4 separate regions of the Homo sapiens genome follow, and regions 2, 3 and 4 are each linked to region 1. The links come from fine-mapping of genetic effects on gene expression. A gene starts in region 1. Each other region holds a variant in brackets. All regions are shown on one strand. Distances are from middle to middle.

Region 1 (5,254 bases):
GAGGCAGAGGTTGCAGTGAACCAAGATGGTGCCACTGCACTCCAGCCTGGGCGACAGGGTGACAGAGCAAGACTCTGTCTCAAAAAAAAAAAAAAAAGTATCACGTGGTGAATAAATTCAAATTCTTAAATATACCAATACAGTCAACTGTAAAGGCTATTTATCTTTTCCTATCATTTACTTATATTTATCTATTTATAGAAATGACAATTAAAAAAACCTCATCAGCCTTAACTGAATTTATTTTTATTCAAAGTATCACAGAGCACGAGGGAGCCTTGAAAACCCATCTGGCCTAACTCCGGCATCAGCCTAGGAAAGCACAAGACCTGGCTGTACTGACTCATAGTTCAGTGCTCTTTCTACTTCAACACAATGCCTCAATGCTATTAAGGAGAAATTTAATAATTCTTTTGGTTTCCTTTCACAAACATTATCGTCAGAGACTGTGCGCAGTGGCTCATGCCTATAATCCCAGCACTTGAGGAGACCAAGGAGGGAGGATCCCTTGAGTCCAGGAGTTTGAGACCACCTTGGGCAACAGCAAGAGATCATGTCTCTATAAAAAATTTAAAAAATTAGTCTGGTGCAGCGGTGTGCCTGTAGTCCCTGCTACTCAGGTGGTTGAGGCAGGAGGATTGCTTGAGCCCAGGAGTTCAAGGCCGCAGTGAGCTACGATTGCAGCACTGCACTGCCGGGGTGAGAGAGCAGGACCTTGTCTCTAAAAAAATTTTTCAGCATACTTTTTTTTTCTTTGGAGACAGAGAGTCTTCCTCTGTCACCCAGGCTGGAGTGCAGCAGCAGGACCTCACTGTAACCTTCGCCTCCTGGGTTCAAGCTATTCTCCTGCCTCAGCCTCCTGAGTAGCTGGGATTACAGGCATGTTCCAACACTCTTGCTATGTTTTGTTTTTTTTTTTTGTTTTTTTTTTTTTTGTATTTTTAGTAGAGACAGGGTTTTGCTGTGTTGACCAGGCTGTTCTCAAAATCCTGGCCTCAAGTGATTCGCCCGCCTCAGCCTCCCAAAGTGCTGGGATTACAGGCGCCAGCCCCGCACCCGCCAAAAACACACAAAAATTATCAGGGATTGTGTTTATAAATTTAGTTACTTTTGAAAATGTTTTTACATTTTGAACTTTCCTGTAAGGACTATTCACCCATTGCATTGATTGGTGCTCACAGCACTTAATACTTGAACAAGGGGAATTCAAGGACATGCTCTTATCCCCTTTCAAGTGGACTCAGAAGGAAAACAAAACAAAACAAAACAAAACAAACAAACAAACAAAAAAAACCCCACAATCAACAAGAAACAGGAGAGGCCTCAAAACAAGCAGGGCTCTCTCCCTGGGGCATCTCACTTTTTTTTTTCCTTTTAAACCACAAGGCCCTAACAGAGGAGCAAACTCCATGTGGTTTCTTAACTGTTTCAAAAGTGATCAATCACCAAATCGAATGTGACGTGCATTGTCACCTTCCAAGGAAAACTCTGAGTAGTCTTGAAAGATAGAATCACAAAAGGGAAAAATCACCTCTCCAGGGCTAGTTCCCTTATAAAATAAATCTGTCCTGGGGCTTCCCCTTGGAAAAACACACACAGGGCCCCAAGTGTGTGTAGGCTGACTGGCTACACAATCATTTGAATTTAGTTTCGAAAATAGCCCTTCCCTGTGTCCCTAATGTAAAGGAATAATTAAAACCCAAAGCGCATTTCCCTTAATTAGCCGAAAGCCCTAGCAATGCATGGCATTGTGGGCATTCAGGAGCCAAAATGCCCCCACTCATAAAAAATGATCCAAACAATGGCTCGTGCCCAAGCTTTCACACTTGTTTTGCAGAGAAGTCTTGGCTGGCAGAGGCAGGATTTGTAATTCCTTGGGTCGCTTGACTTCACGAGGGGCGAGGTATGCATTGTAGCGACACGGACTACTTGTGAAGCCTTTGGGCGGGAGTCGCTTAAAGATTAACTTTCTCGGGTTTCCGTTACCAAAAGCGTTTCCGTGAATAGCGTGATTGGAAACTTGTGCGGGCCGGAGACCGCGGCGCGGCTGCTCTTTCAACAGGCGATTTGTTCTCCTGTCCGAGGCTCATTTCCATGCAAAGAGCCTGACATCAGAGCACCTTTTGTTGCTAAACGCTTTCTTTAGCCTCGAGGGAGAGAGTCATGTGGAGCTGGAAGAGCTCATTTTGAAGAGAGGGGTCCCGGGGAGCTCCCTCCAAGATCTAGAGGCTCCGCGGCCACCCCTGCCGGGTCCTGCCAAGACTTGCTAGAAGGAACGAGTCGCGTGCCTTAGTTAGTTGGTTCCCGTCACAGGAAGAAACGCCTTTGCAGTGGGTTTAATTGCTTCTGGGCCGAGCGAATTCCCCGCCGTACAACTCAGTGGTGCGGACTTTGCCTCCTGCTACCCTGTTGCTGCGCCGAGCGGGGTGGGAAAGTTTCTGGAGTTGTCAGTCGCGCAGCCCGTGGCCACCTAGACCCGAGGTGCGGGCGCCTGCGAAGGGCCCCCGCGGGGTGGCCGGGGCCGCCGGGGCATGCAGCGCGGGGGCGCGGCTCGGTGACGCCGCGGGCGGGGACCCGGCATCCGGGCAGGCTGCGCGCGGGTGCGGGGCGAGGGCGCCGCGGGGACTGGGACGCACGGCCCGCGCGCGGGACACGGCCATGGAGGACGCGGGAGCAGCTGGCCCGGGGCCGGAGCCTGAGCCCGAGCCCGAGCCGGAGCCCGAGCCCGCGCCGGAGCCGGAACCGGAGCCCAAGCCGGGTGCTGGCACATCCGAGGCGTTCTCCCGACTCTGGACCGACGTGATGGGTATCCTGGTAAGTTACCTGGGGAGGGGGCGGCGCAGGAAGTACAGTTCGCAGCAGCCCCTCTGAAACCGGGGGCTCCCTTCTCGCCCACCCACTGGGCAACCCACTCCGCAGAGGCGTCCTTCTCTGGCTCTAGTTCTTAGGGGGCTAAATACACACAGTATAGGATTTCAAACCCTAATTAAAAAATAACCAGCCACAGGTCCCGTCAAAAGGTGTTTTTTAAACAATCGGGTATGATATTCAACAGTTTAATCTGGGACACCTGCTGACATGTTGGTGTGGAAAAGGCGAGAAAGAGGCCTTCAAAAAGTAGATGTAAATAAATATTTGGTTGGTGCTGGATTAGGGAAAAGGCTGATGTTACTGATGTTTATCTCTTCACCATTTGTTGTGTGACCACAAGAGGGAAAACAAACATTTCCTTACTCAGAACTGCCAAAATGTTTGCCTACTTTTTTTTGCAGTTTTTCAATTTGTGGAGTTACAGGATATTTGTTTTATATGTTTGGGGCTAAAACAATAGGACTTATTTTGCTAAATCTGTGCTGTCATGTATTTTGAAATGTCCAGTGACTAAAAGCGCCCCTGGATTTGGCATAGTCTCTGGGAAGCAGTTCTTCTGTATGGAGGGTGAAGTTTTAACCTGCTCAGGGTTGAATACCTTGGGGAAGTAATAGATTTGCTTTGGTGGAGCTGTAGTTAGGCAGGTAGACTGGAATCAGATGGGCGAGGTTTATTACAGTCAGACATCTTAATCCATACATAAAAGACAACTTTAGTTTAAAGACTTGGAATGGCCAGATGTGCAGATTATCAGAAAAGTCTCTAGATTTGCTTTGAGATCTTATATTTTTTGAGTGGGAGGAGATGGAGTGAAAGTTCTTCTTTGGGAATGATAAACCGTGTACAGTTTTTAGCACAGTGATTAAACTCTTGGGCTTCAAAGTAAGTTATACTAGGTCAAATGCCAGCTCTCCAATTGACTGTTTACATGATCTTGGCCAAGTCATTCAACCTCTCTGATCCTCAGTTTCATCACCTGAAAATTGAAGAAAAGAAGACTTGCTTCTTGGGGTTTCTGAGATTTAGCTGGGTTGATGTGTGTATCAAGTACTCAGCAGACTGTATAGCATATAGTAGAGGCTCAATAAGTGTAGCTGTCTTTCAGGTTTTATTTGTTTCCTGCAAAGTCTCCTGTCTCTTCCTTCTGGACATCCTAAAAGCCCAGTTACTCCATTTTCAGGTGACCATTGGTATTTATGATTCTTACTATACAGAGAACCAGCGAGCGTTGGTTAAAGATTTCTATCTGCTCTTGTCACTCTCCAGTATTGAAAAATGTATATAAATATGCATGCAATGTATATTTACATACTATATATAGCACATGTATATAATATACCTAAATCTAATATATATTTTAGATTTAAAAGGTTTTGTTTTTGCATTTTCTGAAGTATACAGATGAATATGATCCTTCACTGAAGTTCCAGAAAACCTAATGGACATTTTAAAGTTGTGATAAACTTTTTCTTTTCTTTTTTTTTTTTTTTTTTGAGACGAAGTCTTGCTCCGTCGCCCAGGCTGGGGTGCAGTGGCACGAGCTCAGCTCACTGCAACCTCCGCCTCCTGAGTTCAAGCAATTTTCCTGCCTCAGCCTCCTGAGTAGCTGGGATTACAGGCGCGCAACACCACACCCGGCTGATTTTTGTATTTTTAGTAGAGACGGGGTTTCACCATGTTAGCCAGGCTGGTCTCGAACTCCTGACCTTGTGATCTGCCCACCTCGGCCTCCCAAAGTGCTGGGATTACAGGCGTGAGCCACCGCGCCCGATAGACTGTTTTTAAGTTATCCTGTTATTTCTTGTCTAGATCCAGTTCTAAGTTTTCAGTCACTGAGGAAATTGGTTTGATAATATCCCATTGTATCCCTTACTCTAGGGCGTTGGGCTGGGGGCGGGGAGGATTGGGGGCCTGTTTAAATGAAACTTGGGCTGAGGGTTCTTTTGGGGAAGAGGGTTGGCCAGTGGCATTTTCTGCAGATTTGCTTTCCCTTCCCTGACAGATTCCAGCACTGTTGGGTCAGTTGTAGTGGAGTGTTCTTTGGCTGAGTTAAAAGATGGGGTGGGGCTTCAGAAGCTCAAACCTGCTATTGAAAGGGCAGATGCAGGAGCAAAGAAAATATGTACTTCAGCTAATCATTCAGGATCAGGCTGGGAAGAACGTAAAGCCTGTCCCAGACAGGTTGTGTTTGCTCATGTTTTCCTCTTGTTTATCTGGGGTAAACAGGCATGGAGATTGTTCCTTAGTAAAATTCAGAGGAAGACATGGCTTACTGCTCCTTTGTAGATGTCTTGCAGGGAGACACCAGGCTAAAAGGGAGGGAAAGCTGTCATCCAAGTGTTTATACAAACTGAGTCTTCGGGGAAATACATCAAGACACAAA
Region 2 (5,254 bases), 190 kb after region 1:
CAATACCTGGATTAGTGCCTGTTATTGTAGGTAATTCATAAACATGTGATGAATAAATTAATAATTTTTTAAAGCATTTGAAAATATATCAGAGACCCACATTTACTATTGCTGTTTTTCAAACTGCGTGCTTTTTTCAGAAGCATTACAGAAGATTTTAATGGGAAAAAAGTTACTTATTTTATGACGCAGAAAGGAGGAATGAATTTTTTTTTTTTAAGGAATTCATACTTTGGAGCTTCAGTAACTTCCTAATAATGTCAGCTCTAGTTTTCTTTGTTGTTTTTGAGGTCGCTTGCTCACTTTCCTCACATTGAAAGCACTAATGTGTGTTGGATCAGAAGCTGCTGTTGCTGATGTCCTCAGATGTTTGCAGGACCTGCGGAGCTGTGTTAAGGCCCTTCTGATGACTCGGCAGCATGCAAATAGCAGGTTTCATTTTAGCTGGTTTTGAGCCCGTGTGGCTGCGGCCATATGTAATATGCCAGAGACTTTTCTATTTTGGCAAGTAAACAATTCTCACTGCAAACTTTCTGAAGTGTGATATCGTCTATTGATGTAGCACCACGAATCAAATAAGCATGCTATACTCAAATGTGCAAATGAGGAGCCGCTGAGAGGATAATACTTAGCTACTCAAAATGCAGGAAGTACTGCTGAGTCACTCCCATCAGGATTCTGGTGTGAAAGAGATTTCCCAGCTTTTTACTGACAACACTTTAGAAAAGTGAAAGAAGCTAAAACTTTAGAGTAACATATGGAAATTTTATGGTAGACTGGAAAATAGTATGTTTGCTGTATATGTGGGTTTTAAATTCATGTTTCCTTATCCAATGCCAATAATTTGTACAAATAGAAATATAAGAATCTAGCCAATTTTTTTTTTCCAGGAATACACTTTTTTAAAAGTGCATGTTTCCTATCCAAGTAGATTAAATATCCTCTGACTACACTTCCAGGTATTCTAGTAATCATGGATTGTACTTGATCTACATTTGAAGTCCAGCCTTGCTACTGGGCTTTTGCGTATGCTGAGTCTCTAAACCTTTAAGTATTTTGTCTGTGTGGTAGACAGATTTTTTTTTTCTTGGAGATTCCAAGAATATCTATTCGAGAATGAGAAATAGTATTTGAGTGCTTAATAAATAGTGACATTGGCCACGACTTTAAAAGTAAGCGAGGATGTAAGTTTAAGAGGAGGAGAATATTGGTTATAGAATCAAATATAGGTATAGATTGATTTGATTGATTTCGTTGAAGGCCAAGTCGCTGAGAATTACAAAACAACACCTGTCCACTCTGATGAACTTCTTCATTTTGTTGAAACCCATGGCAGGACTCGGGCCTTGATGGAATGCCTGGCTCCCCTCCGCCTTCACAGCCCGACCCCGAACACTTGGACAAGCCCAAGCTCAAGGCCGGGGGTTCTGTAGAAAGTCTTCGCAGTTCTCTCAGTGGGCAGAGCTCCATGAGTAAGTCGAGTTTGTCATTGTAGATTATTTTCTTTGGAGTTAATATCTGACATATACTGAGCACTAGGTTCAGGCAATTTCAAGGTGAATAAGACCAAGTCCTGCCCTTCAGGTGCTATTAGAGAATCAGACCAATAAACTCTCTGGACTCAGAGTCGTGTTTGTTTATTAGTAGACATGCAGCAGCAGCAGCCCAAAACAGGAGGTGATGAATTTTGATCGGAGACAATAGGGAAAGCATCTCAGAGGAAGGATCTAGAGAGCAGGGGGAATAAGCCAGGGAGACAAGCACATGAAGATGACCAGCAAAATAAAGGGAGTGGGGAAGGGAGGGGAATTTTATATGTGACTGATAAATTCGGGCCAATGGTAGTTGGAGTTGGCTGAATGGTATGAAGGAAAAGATCAACTTTATTTTATTTTTATTTTTATTTTTGAGATGGAGTCTCACTGTCTCCCAGGCTGGAGTGCAGTGTTGTGATCTCAGCTCACTGCAACCTTCACCTCCCTGGCTCAAGGGATCCTCCTGCCTCAGCCTTCCGCATAGCTGTACTACAGGGTCATGCCACCACACCCGGCTAATTTTGTTGTAGAGACGGGGTTTTGCCATGTAGCCCAGGCTGGTGGAACTCCTGGACTCAAGCGATCTGCCCACCTCGGCCTCCTAAAGTGCTGGGATTATAGGCGTGAGCCACCGTGCCCCGAGATCAAGTTTAAACCTACCACTTTAAGCTCTTTCTTACCCTTTTGGGCAAATGACATGACTGCTCTGAATTTGTTTCCTCATCTGTAAAATGGTTAGAGAGAGTGTGCATTACCACTGAGAGGTCACGAATGTTAAGAGCAGAGTCTGGTGCCTGGCCCTGCAGTGTCCTCCACGCGGGATCCTCCGTGCCACATGGATTCCCAGGTCATGAGGGTAACTTGCTGTGAGTCCCCTGTCCACTGAGGAGCTGAGGGATAGCACTCGGAGAATTCATAACTGGGCCCTGCCCTGGTCCTGACAGAGGGTTGTGGCTCAAGGCTTCCTTTCTCTGGGCCTTCATTTCCTAATCTGCCATACCTTCAATACCTTTCTGCTTTGCTGGGTGGGAAATCTGGATCTACCCGTGTTCTTCCTATGTTTCCTGTACAGGCGGTCAAACAGTGAGCACCACTGATTCCTCAACCAGCAACCGGGAAAGCGTCAAGTCGGAAGATGGGGATGACGAAGAGCCGCCTTACCGAGGCCCGTTCTGCGGGCGTGCCAGGGTGCACACCGACTTCACCCCCAGTCCCTATGACACAGACTCACTCAAGCTCAAGGTATCTCTCTCCCTGGCCTCAGAGCAGCTAACTGGGCTCTTCCATTTCTCTAGGAGGCTTTCTTTCCTCCTCACTGTTGAATGCTGGGCTACTATGGTACAGACTGGACAGTATCTTGGCTACCTCGATCACTGGTCTCCTCTGTAGTGAAAAACAGAACAAGAACCAGCCAGCCCTCGAGGCAGAGGGAGGGTCTCGTGTTAATCCCTGGGTTAGCATCACTTCACCCCTCTGACCTCAGCTTCCCTCTAGAATTCCT[G/A]TTGCACACCCTCCCTCTCCCCACCTGGCTCCTGCTCCACACACCTGGTTTCTGTGTTTTCTCCATCTGAAGAAAGATTTCTGCCTTCTGTGTGCTCAGAGGTACCTTTATGGGACAGATGGGGTTCCACAAAGTGTGTGCAGCCATGACAGGGCCGGGATTGCCACTGGTTAGGACAGGTGGGAAGTGCCTCCTCTAAGAAGTGGGAGCCCTCTGAGGAGGGAAGGCGTTCAGAGTGCCGGGCGGGCAGCCTGGCTGAGAGCACCAGGGGTACCCCAGGCACCCCTGGTTCTGCAGGGCAGGAGGGTGGAGGGGCTGTGACCGGGGGCCTGCGTGGAATTCCGTACAGTCAGAGACACCTGTCTGGCCTCTGCGGAGCTCACAGTCACATCCTATGCAGGTCACTCAGAGGGGTGACTTGTGGGACCCCGATTCTGGCCTTTGTGGCATCTTCACTTCTGCATGACCTGTGTATCTGACAGATTCTTGATTTGTACGTTCATGGAATGTACCTAATGGAAAGATCTTTGCTCCCTGGGCCACAGAAAGGAGATATCATCGATATAATCAGCAAGCCACCCATGGGGACCTGGATGGGCCTGCTGAACAACAAAGTCGGCACGTTCAAGTTCATCTACGTGGACGTGCTCAGTGAAGACGAGGAGAAACCCAAACGCCCCACCAGGAGGCGTCGGAAAGGACGACCACCCCAGCCCAAGTCTGTGGAGGATCTCCTGGATCGGATTAACCTAAAAGTCAGTCGCTTCTGATTCTTGTCACACGCTACTACCTCACTGCCTTTTTCTCTCCTACACTAAGCAAGTGAGGGCATTTTTAGGGTAGGGTTGGGGCTGATCTGTGTGGTCCAATAAGGGCAGCTCGTTACTATGATGAGCATTCATTATTCTACAGAAAGAGTTAGTTAGTTACCAGTTTTCCAACACTGCCCTTGACCTCAGCTGTGGGTGATAGCGTAAGCCCCGGGTCAAACCTTGCTGCTGGAAGAGCTGTAGGCAGAAACTCCTGGCACCTTGATCGCAGCTAGCTCCACAGGGGCCACAAGGAAACTCTGCGCCCACCTCTCTCCCACCATCACTCCAGGCATCTACTAGCATGAGTCTGCAATGAGAGATTATGTTTCCTCTTTGCAAAACTCTTGATCCTGAGGACTTAAAAGCTGGATTTTAATAGCTCTGTAAGTGGAGGAGGAGTCTCCTCTGTTGTGGGCTCTGTGGAGGTAAAGGAATTAGCTCTTATCAAGAGTACAATTATAGTGCAAGCCAGCAGAATCCATCACAGCCTGCAATGTACATCTTCCTAACCCATGATTAATAAAACACCCTGCTTGCCTACTAAGCCAGAGGGCTGGGATGTACAGGATCCATTGCAAATGATACTTACTAATCTTTTGATTAGCCTGAAGGTGACTATGGGAACAGTGTGTGGGTTGCAGGCTAGTTGTTGGCGGTGTTATCATGTGTCTGGGCTGGCTGACACCCTTCTGTCTTCCTTCTCCCTCTCACAGGAGCACATGCCCACTTTCCTGTTCAATGGATATGAAGATTTGGACACCTTTAAGCTGCTGGAGGAGGAAGACTTGGATGAGTTAAATATCAGGGACCCGGAACACAGAGCTGTTCTCTTGACAGCAGTGGAGCTGTTACAAGAGTATGACAGTAAGTCCCTGTATGCACAGAGGTGTTCCCTGTGAGGTCTGCCACAGCAGGCCCCACGTATGCTGCCAGTATGTGCTTAGGTCCCTGGAGTCACTTATTCTGTCCTGTTCTTTCTGTTACAAGAGTATGACAGTAAGTCCCTGTACGCACAGAGGTGTTCCCTGTGAGGTCTGCCACAGCAGGCCCCACCTACGCTGCCAGTATGTGCTTAGGTCCCTGGAGTCACTTATTCTGTCCTGTTCTTTCCCATGCCAAGGTCAAACAGCACAAAATCATAAATTCCCAGTGCAGACATGGGAACAAAAGAAAACCTCCTGTGCCGCCGCCACCTTTCCGGGCATGTTTCTAGGTGATAGTTGAAGAGGATTCTGCACCAAGTGTCTGCAAGAATGGAATTACAGTTTTCCCAAAAAAATGGGTAGACTCCACTTTCAGTACTTTTGAGAGGTGCAGCCTCCAGCAGGCCATTGGGACAGCTGAGCACAAAAGTGACTGACCAGCTGGGAGGTTTTCGCTCAGCCAAAGCTTGATTACTTCTCAGA
Region 3 (5,254 bases), 23 kb before region 1:
AAAAAAATTTTTTTTGTTGTTTTTGAGATGGAGTTTCACTCTTGTTGCCAAGGCTGGAGTGCAATGGCACGACCTCGGCTCACCGCAACCTCCGCCTCCTGGGCTCAAGCGATTCTCCTGCCTCAGCCTCCCGAGTAGCTGGGATTACAGGCATGTGCCACCACATCCGGCTAATTTTTTTGTATTTTTAGTAGAGACGGGGTTTCACCATGTTGGCCAGGATGGTCTCAATCTCCTGACCTTGTGATCCGCCTGCCTCGGCCTCCCAAAGTGCTGGGATTACAGTCGTGAGCCACGGCGCCCGGCCAAGGAAAAAAATTTTTAATGGGACTCCCAACATCTTGCTTTTGTTGGATACTGGATCCATTCAGGTTCCATTCATGAAATATTTGCCATAGTGCATTGCTGCCTTTTTGGAAATGCTATAATATCTCAACCTTTAGCAACGCATTCCATTATTTAACAGTGAGGCATTCAGGAACTATCATAAGTTATGTGAAAGGTTGTGTTTTCTGAAACTGTTGAGAAAAGAACCCTTGTCTCTCAGCTTCAGGAACTCAGTCATTTTAATACTAGCAAGTATTTACATAAAGAATCTAAAAGCCCAGGACTTAGACTGAGAATTCATCCCCATGCATCACACAGAGACCTTTTGGTCTAAGGCACTAGTATCGTGGCCCTCAGTTTCTGCCACTGTCATTCATGGAGGCATTCATTCATTCTTTCATTCACCAGACCAATTTTTAGAACACTTCTATGTCTGGCTGGCATTGAATTTGTCTCCATGAATGCTTGAGTCTGGAAACAGACAAACAGCAGGCATGTTTTGCCAGGCAATGAATAGGTAGCATTACAAAATATTTAATATACAGGGCAGTACCTGTATACAGTAAATAATCAGTGTTCTTTATTAACATTATGCTTATCATTAAACAGCATAGTAACAGTATAGAAAAATTTTCAGATAGTTTAGTTCAAAATCATATCATCTGAATGCATCAACAGCTTTCATTTGACATTCATTTATTTGTTTGTTCAAAAAATATTTATTGAGCTCCTTACTGTACTGCAAACATGGCCATAGAACATTGGCAGCTTCTTTTCTCACCTTTTGTGGGCACATATACTACTAATTTCTTTTTTTTTTTTTTTTGAGACGGCGTCTCTTTCTGTCGCCGAGGCTGGAGTGCAATGGCATGATCTTGGCTCACTGCAAGCTCCGCCTCCCGGGTTCAAGCGATTCTCCTGCCTCAGCCTCACGAGTAGCTCGGACTACAGGCGCCGGCCACCACGCTCAGCTAATTTTTATACTTTTAATAGAGACGGGGTTTCACCACGTTGACCAGGATGGTCTCGATCTCTTGACCTTGTGATCCGCCCGCCTCAGCCTCCCAAAGTGCTGGGATTACAGGCGTGAGCCGCCACGCCCAGCTATACTACTAATTTCTTAAAATTTTTCACACAGAGAATATTTTCCCATGCTGTTACATATTTTATACGGTTTTAACAATTTAATCTGTAGATATTATTCCTTCAAGACATCATATCATCATTTATTTGACCATTCTCCTGTTATGGAATATGGAAGAAGCCGCATTTATCTTCTTTTTTTTTTTTTTTTTTTTTTTTTTTTGAGACGGAGTCTGGCTCTGTAGCCCAGGCTGGAGTGCAGTGGCGCGATCTCGGCTCACTGCAAGCTCCGCCTCCCGAGTTCATGCCATTCTCCTGCCTCAGCCTCCCGAGTAGCTGGGACCACAGGCGCCCACCACCACGTCCGGCTAATTCTTTTGTATTTTTTAGTGGAGACGGGGTTTCACCGTGTTTTGCCAGGATGGTCTTGATCTCCTGACCTCATGATCCACCCGCCTCTGCCTCCCAAAGTGCTGGGATTACAGGCGTGAGCCACCGCGCCCAGCCCCATTTATCTTTTTTTACCCCCTTCAATTTGGAGTTAAGGAACCTGGGAGATTGTGAATCACCGTAGTCCTCCCTTATTCATGGTTTCTTTTTCCTCAATTTTAGTTACCCACATTTTAGTCCTAAAATATTAAATGGAAAACTCAATAAATAAATATGTATAAGATTTTTGTTTTTTTGTTTTGTTTTTTGTTTTTTTGAGATGGAGTTTTGCTCTTGTTGCCCAGGCTGGAGTGCAATGGCATGATCTCGGCTCACCACAACCTCCCCTCCCGGGTTCAAGCAATTCCCAGCCTCAGGCTCCCGAGTAGCTGGGATTGCAGGCATGCGCCACCACGCCCAACTAATTTTGTATTTTTGGTAGACACAGGGTTTCTCCATGTTGGTCAGGCTGGTCTCGAATTCCCGATCTCAGGTGATCCGCAAGTCTTGGCCTCCCAAAGTACTGGGATTACAGGCATGAGCCACCGCACCCGGCCCGATGTATAAGTTTTAAATTGCACGCCATTCTGAGGGACATAATGAAATCTTGTGCTGTCCAGCAACATCCCTCCCAGGATGTGACTCCTCCCTCTGTCCATTGTACCCATGTGGTCTACACAGTAGTTGTTTAGTAGCTGACTCAGTTATCAGATTGACTATCACCATACTGCTGTTGAAGT[C/G]ACCCTTATTTTGCCTCATGATGGCCCCAAAGTACAAGAGCAGTGATGCTGGCATATGGTTATAATTGTTCTATTTTATCGTTAGTTGTTAATGTATTACTGTGCCTAAGTTATAAATTAAACTTTATCATAAGTATGTATGTATGAGAAAAAACATAATATCTATAGGGTTCAGCACCATCCATGGTTTCAGGAATTCACTGGGGGTTGGGGAATCTATCCCCTAAGGATAAAGGGAGAATACTTTACTTCAGATCGCAGAGCCTGTGGAAAGATCTGGACAAGACCCTCTGAAAAGAGCTGATTGGTGCTGCTGCTAGAAAATATCAAGGTACATTATTGGTGTATGGGCCACCCCCCTTGATAGCGGCACCGCTTCTGGCTGGCCTTTGGGCAGGTATGACCTTCACATTAGTGAAGTGTTCCAAATTTTACTCCCTCTCTCCCTAATGTGTGTATTCTGTTACAGCAGGCTTTGGAATCATCTACTCAGCCAAGGGACTGTCCCTGGTACATGGTGCTCTTCAAAATAAAGTGAAGATTACCATCCCAAAGAGGACATTAGGAAGAACCAAAAGACAAAGGGTGGGTTCTTTCAGGTCTTTAAGTCCAACCTCCTTCGCTTACAGCCTACAAGGTGGAAAGTGTTTGACCATCCATCTGCCTTGAGCTTTGGGTTCAGCCATTCTCCCACTTGTATTGGTCTGGAACTCCTGGGCTCAAGAGATTCTCCTCCTCCAGCCTCCCAAAGTGTTGGTATTACAGGCGTGAGCCACCGTACCCAGACTTCACTTGTGTTTTTTAAAACAGAGAGCTTCAAGTCCCTCCAACACTTAATGTCATTTTATGTCTTTGTGCCTTTGCTCCCATTGTTCTCATAGTCTGAGTCCAGTTTAGCCACCACATGGCTGAGTAATTTTGATTCTTCCTTCAGTACTTCTTACTAACTCAGATGAAGCCTCTTACAAGAAGTCTTCCATAATGCCTCAAGGCTGCACTAACCGTCCAGTCTCTTTGTTCATAAAGCACCTTGTGCGTTCCTTTATCACACAGGATTGATAGTATTAGGTTGGTGCAAACATAATCACGGTTTTTACCATTGAAGGTAATGGCAGGCCAGGCGCGGTGGCTCACATCTGTAATCCCATGCCTTGTGAGGCCAAGGCAGGCAGATCACTTGAGGTCAGGAGTTCAAGACCAGCCTGGCCAATGTGGTGAAACACCATCTCTACTAAATACAAAAAATGAGCCTGGCGTGGTGGCGCATGCCTGTAATCCCACCTACTTGGGAAGCTGAGGCACGAGAATCTCTTGAACCCAGAGACAGAGGTTGCAGTGAGCTGAGATTGCACCATTGCACTCCAGCCTGGGTAACAAGAGTGAAACTCTGTCTTAAAAAAAAAAAAAAAAAAGTAATGGCAAATGGATGTATGTGCATGAAAGATCAAAATGAAGCTCTTTGTCCTATGAGCTACTGAAACAGAGGAACCCCTGAGATTGCTGTGCTTAAAAATACTGCCATTTCTGCCTTCAGGAATATAATGGTGATCAAACATGGCACCTGGCTGACTGCACTCTTTGAAAGTAATGGCAAAAACTGTGATTACATTCATACCAGCCTACTTATGTGTCTGTCTCCCTCACTAGACTAAGCTCATCAAAATCAGGATTTACAACTTATTTTCACATTCCCAATGCTTAGCACAAAATAGACACTTAGTAAGTATTTATTGAACTGAAATCCATCGAAGATGGTCTAGGCATAGCATCAGGGAAATGTAATTAGAATGCAGTCCTTACCTCCTTACTTAGAAGGTCTGATCAATTCTGTTGTTATGATTGGGTAAGAAAAATGTGTTAATAGGAAAGGAGGAGTCTATTTGATCTTTAAAAGAGAAAACTCCTACAGTGATAATTTCTTCTATGTGTAAATTTTTAACTTTCATATATAAATGGTATACATATACATTTATTAAAATATATGTATAAATGATGGTGATAATAATATTACCACATTCATCTCCTCTGGAATCTTGGTCTAACAGTAGCATCTCTTAAATCTTCCATCTCTCAGCCGGGCACAGTGGCCCATGCCTGTAATCCTAGCACTTTGGGAGGCCGAGGCAAGCAGATCATTTGAGGTCAGGAGTTCGAGACCAGCCTGGCCAACATGGTGAAACTCCATCTCTACTAAAAATACAACAATTAGCCAGGCATGGTGGCGGGTGCCTGTAATCCCAGCTACTTGGGAGGCTGAGGGCATGAGAATCAGTTGAACCCGGGAAGTGGAGATTGCATTGAGCCGAGACTGCGCCACTGCACTCCAGCCTGGGCAATAGAGCAAGACTCAGTCTCAAATAAAATAAAATAATAAAATAAAATAAAAAGAAACCTTCCATCTGTCCTTCTCTACATAGTTCTTTTCGGCTTAATTTATAAATTTGCTCAACTCTTTCACATTCTTAACCATCTTCTTGGGCTTCTTCACATTTGTTTACCTATTTTTCTCCCAGTCATCCTTCAGTCCGTTGCAATCCAGTTTCTACTCCTTCCCCTGACCCTGAAATTGCAGAGGCTGGGTAGGGTTACCATTGACTCCAAAATGCATGCTCAGCTGACGTTTCTTGCTGCTGTGACTCTTCTCTTGCTTTGGACACTGCGGATCCCTTACTCCT
Region 4 (5,254 bases), 140 kb before region 1:
CAAATTTAGCATGTGCTAGAAACTGTGCTAGGTATTATCTAATTTTGTCTGCATAATGCCCCTGTGTTCCTCTAAATGGGTTAAGTTTTAGTTTTAGGGAGTGAAATTTAAGAGGGATACAGGCAAACCAAAGTACATTGCCATCCGGGGTGGGACCAACTGAATAGAGCAGTGATTCTCAAGCTTGTCCCTGCAGTGGAATCTCCTGGAAGGCCGATTAAAACCCAGATTGCTGGGCCCACCACTGTGCATCTCCCCCCAGAGTTTCTGATTCAGTGGCCTAGGGTGGGACCCCCAAATTTGCATTTTTCTAAGTTGCCAGGCAATGCCGATACTGCTGATCTCGGGGCACACTTTGAGAATTGCTGTCCTAGAGCTCAAAACCGTATCACCCATGGAACAGCTGCAGTAATCCAGAATGCTTTCCTTAGAGAAGAGACTGCTCTGGGGTGCCCAGAAGGCTCCTGGGGCCTGTCGAAGACCTGGAGGGTGTTCGTGATACCAAGGATCTGAACCAGGACCAGTGGAAGTGACATTGAGACAAACAGCCTGAGAATAAAGGAGAACAGATGGAGTGGGTCCTGCCAGGGGAGGCCACAAAAATAAAAGATATGGGGATGTGCTTGAACATAAAGGGTGGTGGGTTGCTGAGCAGGGATTGTGTACTTGTGGCCCTGAGGCTGGACACAGCCTGCAGATGTTCTCCAGTGGGAATGCACAAGGCTGTGAGGCATTTTAGCTTGAATGCTATTGAAGGTGTATATCCACCAGTTCACCCGGTCCATATTATCTCTTAGCCCCCACCGAGTCACCCACTTATACTTATCAGCCTGACCACATGTGGTCCTGGAGCTGAAGGGTGTACATGCAGCAGGGTGGTCAAGCAATAGGCAAATGCTGGATTCAGTTTTTTTTTTAATTATCTGTTATTTGAACTCCAAAGAATGAAAGTCAGGATGCTAGGTGAATTGTTCGCTTGTAGGTAGTAAACCTGCAATTGTATGCCAAAAGAGAGGACCCACTAAAAACTACTCTACAATGGAAGCCAACTCTAACATTGCCTGCAAGGACAGAACTTCCTAGTGTGCCTTTCTCAGTAGGGCACAGCGCTGGTTCCACGTTAAAAGAGCTGACCCACAGGGCCCACATAGCGAAAAGACATCCAAGGACTGCAGCTGGACTCATCCTTTCCATCTCCTCCTGCACACATCACCCCAGGTCTGCCCTCCCTGAGCCCTGGTGGGCTGGTCTACCCTGCTAGGAGACAGGAGGGCTGCCGGGAGGCTGGAAAACTAGGCAAGAAGTCTTGGAAGGCAATGACCAAGGCTTAGCAGGAAGAGAGATAAAGAAGGAGGGTTTAGGATTGATTACAAAATGTCTGGCACCAAGAGTGGAAGATTCTTGTGAAGAAAAGCTTATTATAGGAATTTCTGGGGAAAGAAAGAATATAAGGTGAGGAGCAGTGGCTCATGCCTATAATCCCAGCACTTTGGGAGGCCGAGGCAGGCAGATCACCTGAGTCAGGAGTTCCAGACCAGCCTGGCCAACGTGGCGAAATTCTGTCTCTACTAAAAATACAAGAACTAGGCAGGCATGGTGGCATGTGCCTGTAATCTCAGCTACTCAGGAGGCTGAGGCACAAGAATCGCTTGAACCCGGTAGGCAGAGGTTGCAGTGAGCAGAGATTGTGCCATTACACTCCAGCCTATGCAACAGAGCAAGGCTGTGTCAAAAAAAAAACAAAAACAAAAAACAGAAAAGAAAGAATATAGAAAAATTGAAATGACAGCAAGAAGTAACAAGACCAAATTAAGAAAAATTTAGAAATGGGAAATCTGGATACATTGTTATGAGAACTATATTGACTTGACTGTGATGGACTCTTTGTCCTTGAAACATTCCAAATAAAATCAGAGAAAGAGCTGGAAGTATGCTTCAGAAGAATCTTTCACTGATGTGTCTAAATGGCCTGATTCCATCTTTTCCATCTTTGCCTTCTAGTTTTGGTCACCAGGTATTTGGCATTATAATTCCCAGGCCAACACACTGCTGTCACCATTATGAGAATTCTGGGGTGGAGGGACAGTGATTTTCCCCTTCCTTACCTCGTGTCTTCATTCACTCTCTTCCTCTTCCTTCTTTTCCATCCTCCCGTCTTCTCTCCCTCCCTTCCTTTCTGTTTCTCCTTTATCACATTAAATGCAGCTGACTACAAATAAGGAAAGGAAAACTTGGGGAACGCTGTGGTGTGGGTTTCTTCCAATAATAACCTTGGCAGGTAATTTTTGCATATACAGACTGAGTCATTTTCTTATAACTGAGATCAGGGGCTGGATTTCTCCCAGGAGAAAAAACACTTATATTAACGTGTTTATGTTTTGGAATAATAATATTTGTCCATGTGAAAATATGTGTGAGTCCTTTCTGCCACACCATCTGGCGTATAACTATTCATAATCCAAACAGTAGCAGCTGCTGCAGAGCACGAGGATGAGTTTTCTTGAAGTAAAAATGGGCTAACTATTGGATGCCACACGTAGCTTTCACAGCATCACCGGTTACTCACCAGAAACCTACATAGCAGTCCCTTCCATTAATCCATTAGGTTCTTTATTAATATCACAAAAGCTCACTTTGCTATCTTCTTCCATTCCATCCAGTAGAGAAACTCTATCGTTTAACCTTACTCTCAACCTGTGGCCCTTGTACCTTGGGAACATGCATGTGTTTTACCCAAAACTGTTGGCAACTGAAGGTGTCAGTTTGGGTTTTGTTGACTGATGACAGCTGCCAGAAAAATTGCCGGGAATTTTTGCTGCAGTTCTCCACTGCGGCTTCCTACACTGCTGAACCACATTCATTATGTGTTTGTGGCTAATCAGACACATGGGGACACAGCAGCAGTTGATGAATCCCTCTCGGGCCGCTCGGCAAGGCTCTGATGTAATGGAAAGTGTAGGGTAACGCTTTCTACAGATCATTTGAATGCGGTTTGCAGAAACCCTTGAGGTTTAAGAAGGAAGTGGTTTGCGGAATAG[G/A]TGCTGGATGCTACTGTATAGAAACCACCACAATCGACAGTACAAAAGAGACCAATTTCACAGGGGAGAATTATCTGCAAGACTTTTTTCATTGCATAGTCATTCTGAGTCTCCCCCAAAAGTTGGAGGTTTTTGAAAGATAAAATTCTTGGCTGGGTGCAGTGGCTCACATCTGTAATCCCAGCACTTTGGGAGGCCAAGACAGGCAGATCTCCTGAGGTCAGGAGTTCAAGACCAGCCTGGCCAATGTAGTGAAACCCCATTTCTACTAAAAATACAAAAATTAGCCAGGCATGGTGGCAGGCACCTGTAATCCTAGCTACTCAGGAGGCTGAGGTAGGAGAATCGCTTGAACCCAGGAGGTGGAGGTTGCAGTGAGCCAAGAACATGCCATTGCACTCCAGACTGGGCAACGAGAGTGAAACTGCTTCTCAAAAACAAAAATACAAACAAAAAAAACTGTTTATGCTGATTCTACACATCACTATAGTAAGTATCCAGACCATTTAGTAAAAAAAAAAAGTCCTAACCGAATGCCCCAAAACTTGTGCCCCAAATGAAAGTATATAAAATTGCTTTAATTTTCAACACTTCAGTTGGTTGAATCATAATAATACCTTACATTTGCATGAGCTATCATGGTCCTCAGGGTGTTTTCACATATGTTTTTAGTAATTAAGACTTTTTTCCGAGAAGGCTGTCAGGTGACCCACATCAATGAGCATTCAGGAGATTGGGGTATTATCTCTGTCCAGCGTGCTTTGTCCTGTTCTCCTCACAATGGGTATCGCTAATTTCCAACTTGTATCAGTCATCTTCAAGCAGTCATTTGTCTTTTCAGATGTCTATTGGTCAGTCCTTTAAGTACCTGCTGCTTTTATCACCAGTTATAATGGGGCGATTTATCAATGTCATTCGCCTCGCTCGGCAACAAGAGAGCAACTATGAGATCTTATAGAAGTGGTCCGCATACCTGGCCTTTAACCACTCTCCTTCGACTTGAAATGGTTCTTATACCTCTGTCGTCCCAGAACTTGTCAAGAGGTCTCGGGTCAGCCTTAACTGGGCCTTGCGCTTGGTTGCCCATCAGCCTTTGCCTTCAGGGTGCATTAGATAATTTTTTCATAAACTTCTTTTTTCCAAAAGCAATATCTGCCAGCATTCCCAAGTCCCTTTTTGTATTTAGGGGTTGCATTATGTGTGTCTCTGGTTCTCACTTCTGTGTTTCTTATCATCATAATTGGCCTGACTCAGGCCAAGTAGGTGTTTGTCTCTATACCCCTATAATGTCAGTGCTAAGTAGTCCTAATAGGTCTTCCTAATAGAGGATGCCCTAAATCCTGCCCTTCCCAACCTTGCCTTTCCCTAGTCCCCAGAAGAACTTCACCTTGAAGACTCAGCTCTGACCACCACTCCCCAATCAATTCTGACCAACAGGTAGTCATCACAAAAGTGGAGACTAATCCAACTATCCTAACCCTGCTGTCTGGTGGGCCTGGACTGAACCCTGGGCACCCTGTCTGCTGACCTGCCCTGAGCCTGTGCCATACTTAGCAGATAAGCACACATGGAGCATTGCTCTCTGATTGTACTGATGCCCTCCTGCTCAAATCCAGCATCTCCACCCCTACCCACTGTGGGTGCAGCTGAGCGAGCTCTATCCTTTTGCATTCCATTGCCTCAGAGGTTCCTTCCCGGTTTGCCTAGGAATAGGCTGCCTTATGATTTTCATGGGCTTTAGGCACTTTTGCCTTCAAGAACCCCTTCCTCTGTAAAAATATATATATAGAAAGTTGCACTTTACAAATGTCAGCATAAAGATAAATAATTAAAAGATTTTCTTTGCCATTTATTTTTTTCCTGACTTAATCTATTAAAGAGAAAATGTATTAATACATTTTCATGGGCCCTTGCTGTATTGTCATTAACCTACTAAGCCTAGAAACATGCCAGCTGTCAGTGCTATGCCTAGAGCACCTGATGGAGAAGTCAGCCCCACCTAGAAACATACCTTCATAATGGATCTTGTTGCCTTAAATCAGGGTTTCTCAAAGCTCAGTCTTTTGCAAATCATATGAAACTTTATCCCATATTGCATTTCACTAGTACTAGTTTTCATCTAATATTTTTCTTCAAATTTACTTCCTTTGAAATTTTGATAGCTGTATATTTAAGAAATGTAATGTCACTAGCATAAAGCCAATATAACTTGCCAT

What was found. PIP is the estimated chance that this variant, and not a neighbour inherited with it, causes the effect.
Region 2: its variant is the best candidate, but not a certain one, in a credible set for the expression of SASH1 in subcutaneous fat (GTEx, PIP 0.71).
Region 3: its variant is the best candidate, but not a certain one, in a credible set for the expression of SASH1 in lung (TOPMed, PIP 0.62).
Region 4: its variant is the best candidate, but not a certain one, in a credible set for the expression of SASH1 in whole blood (TOPMed, PIP 0.73).

What each region holds. Positions count from the first base shown.
Region 1 is chr6:148,340,410-148,345,663 of GRCh38, forward strand. It overlaps SASH1 (SAM and SH3 domain containing 1), which reads left to right and starts at 2,429. Exons shown (of 20, transcript NM_015278.5): 1 at 2,429-2,814. The coding sequence starts at 2,659. RefSeq lists an enhancer at 1,076-1,655.
Region 2 is chr6:148,530,190-148,535,443 of GRCh38, forward strand. SASH1 (SAM and SH3 domain containing 1) reads left to right here. Exons shown (of 20, transcript NM_015278.5): 13 at 1,337-1,472; 14 at 2,608-2,777; 15 at 3,582-3,791; 16 at 4,562-4,712. Among named protein-coding and RNA genes, the nearest start is that of SASH1, 190 kb to the left of the region's middle. RefSeq lists enhancers at 2,812-3,313, 3,314-3,813. The variant G/A (reference allele first, on the strand shown) is at 3,037.
Region 3 is chr6:148,317,418-148,322,671 of GRCh38, forward strand. It overlaps a transcript of SASH1 not described here. Among named protein-coding and RNA genes, the nearest start is that of SASH1, 23 kb to the right of the region's middle. The variant C/G (reference allele first, on the strand shown) is at 2,580.
Region 4 is chr6:148,201,222-148,206,475 of GRCh38, forward strand. It overlaps a transcript of SASH1 not described here. Among named protein-coding and RNA genes, the nearest start is that of SASH1, 140 kb to the right of the region's middle. The variant G/A (reference allele first, on the strand shown) is at 3,039.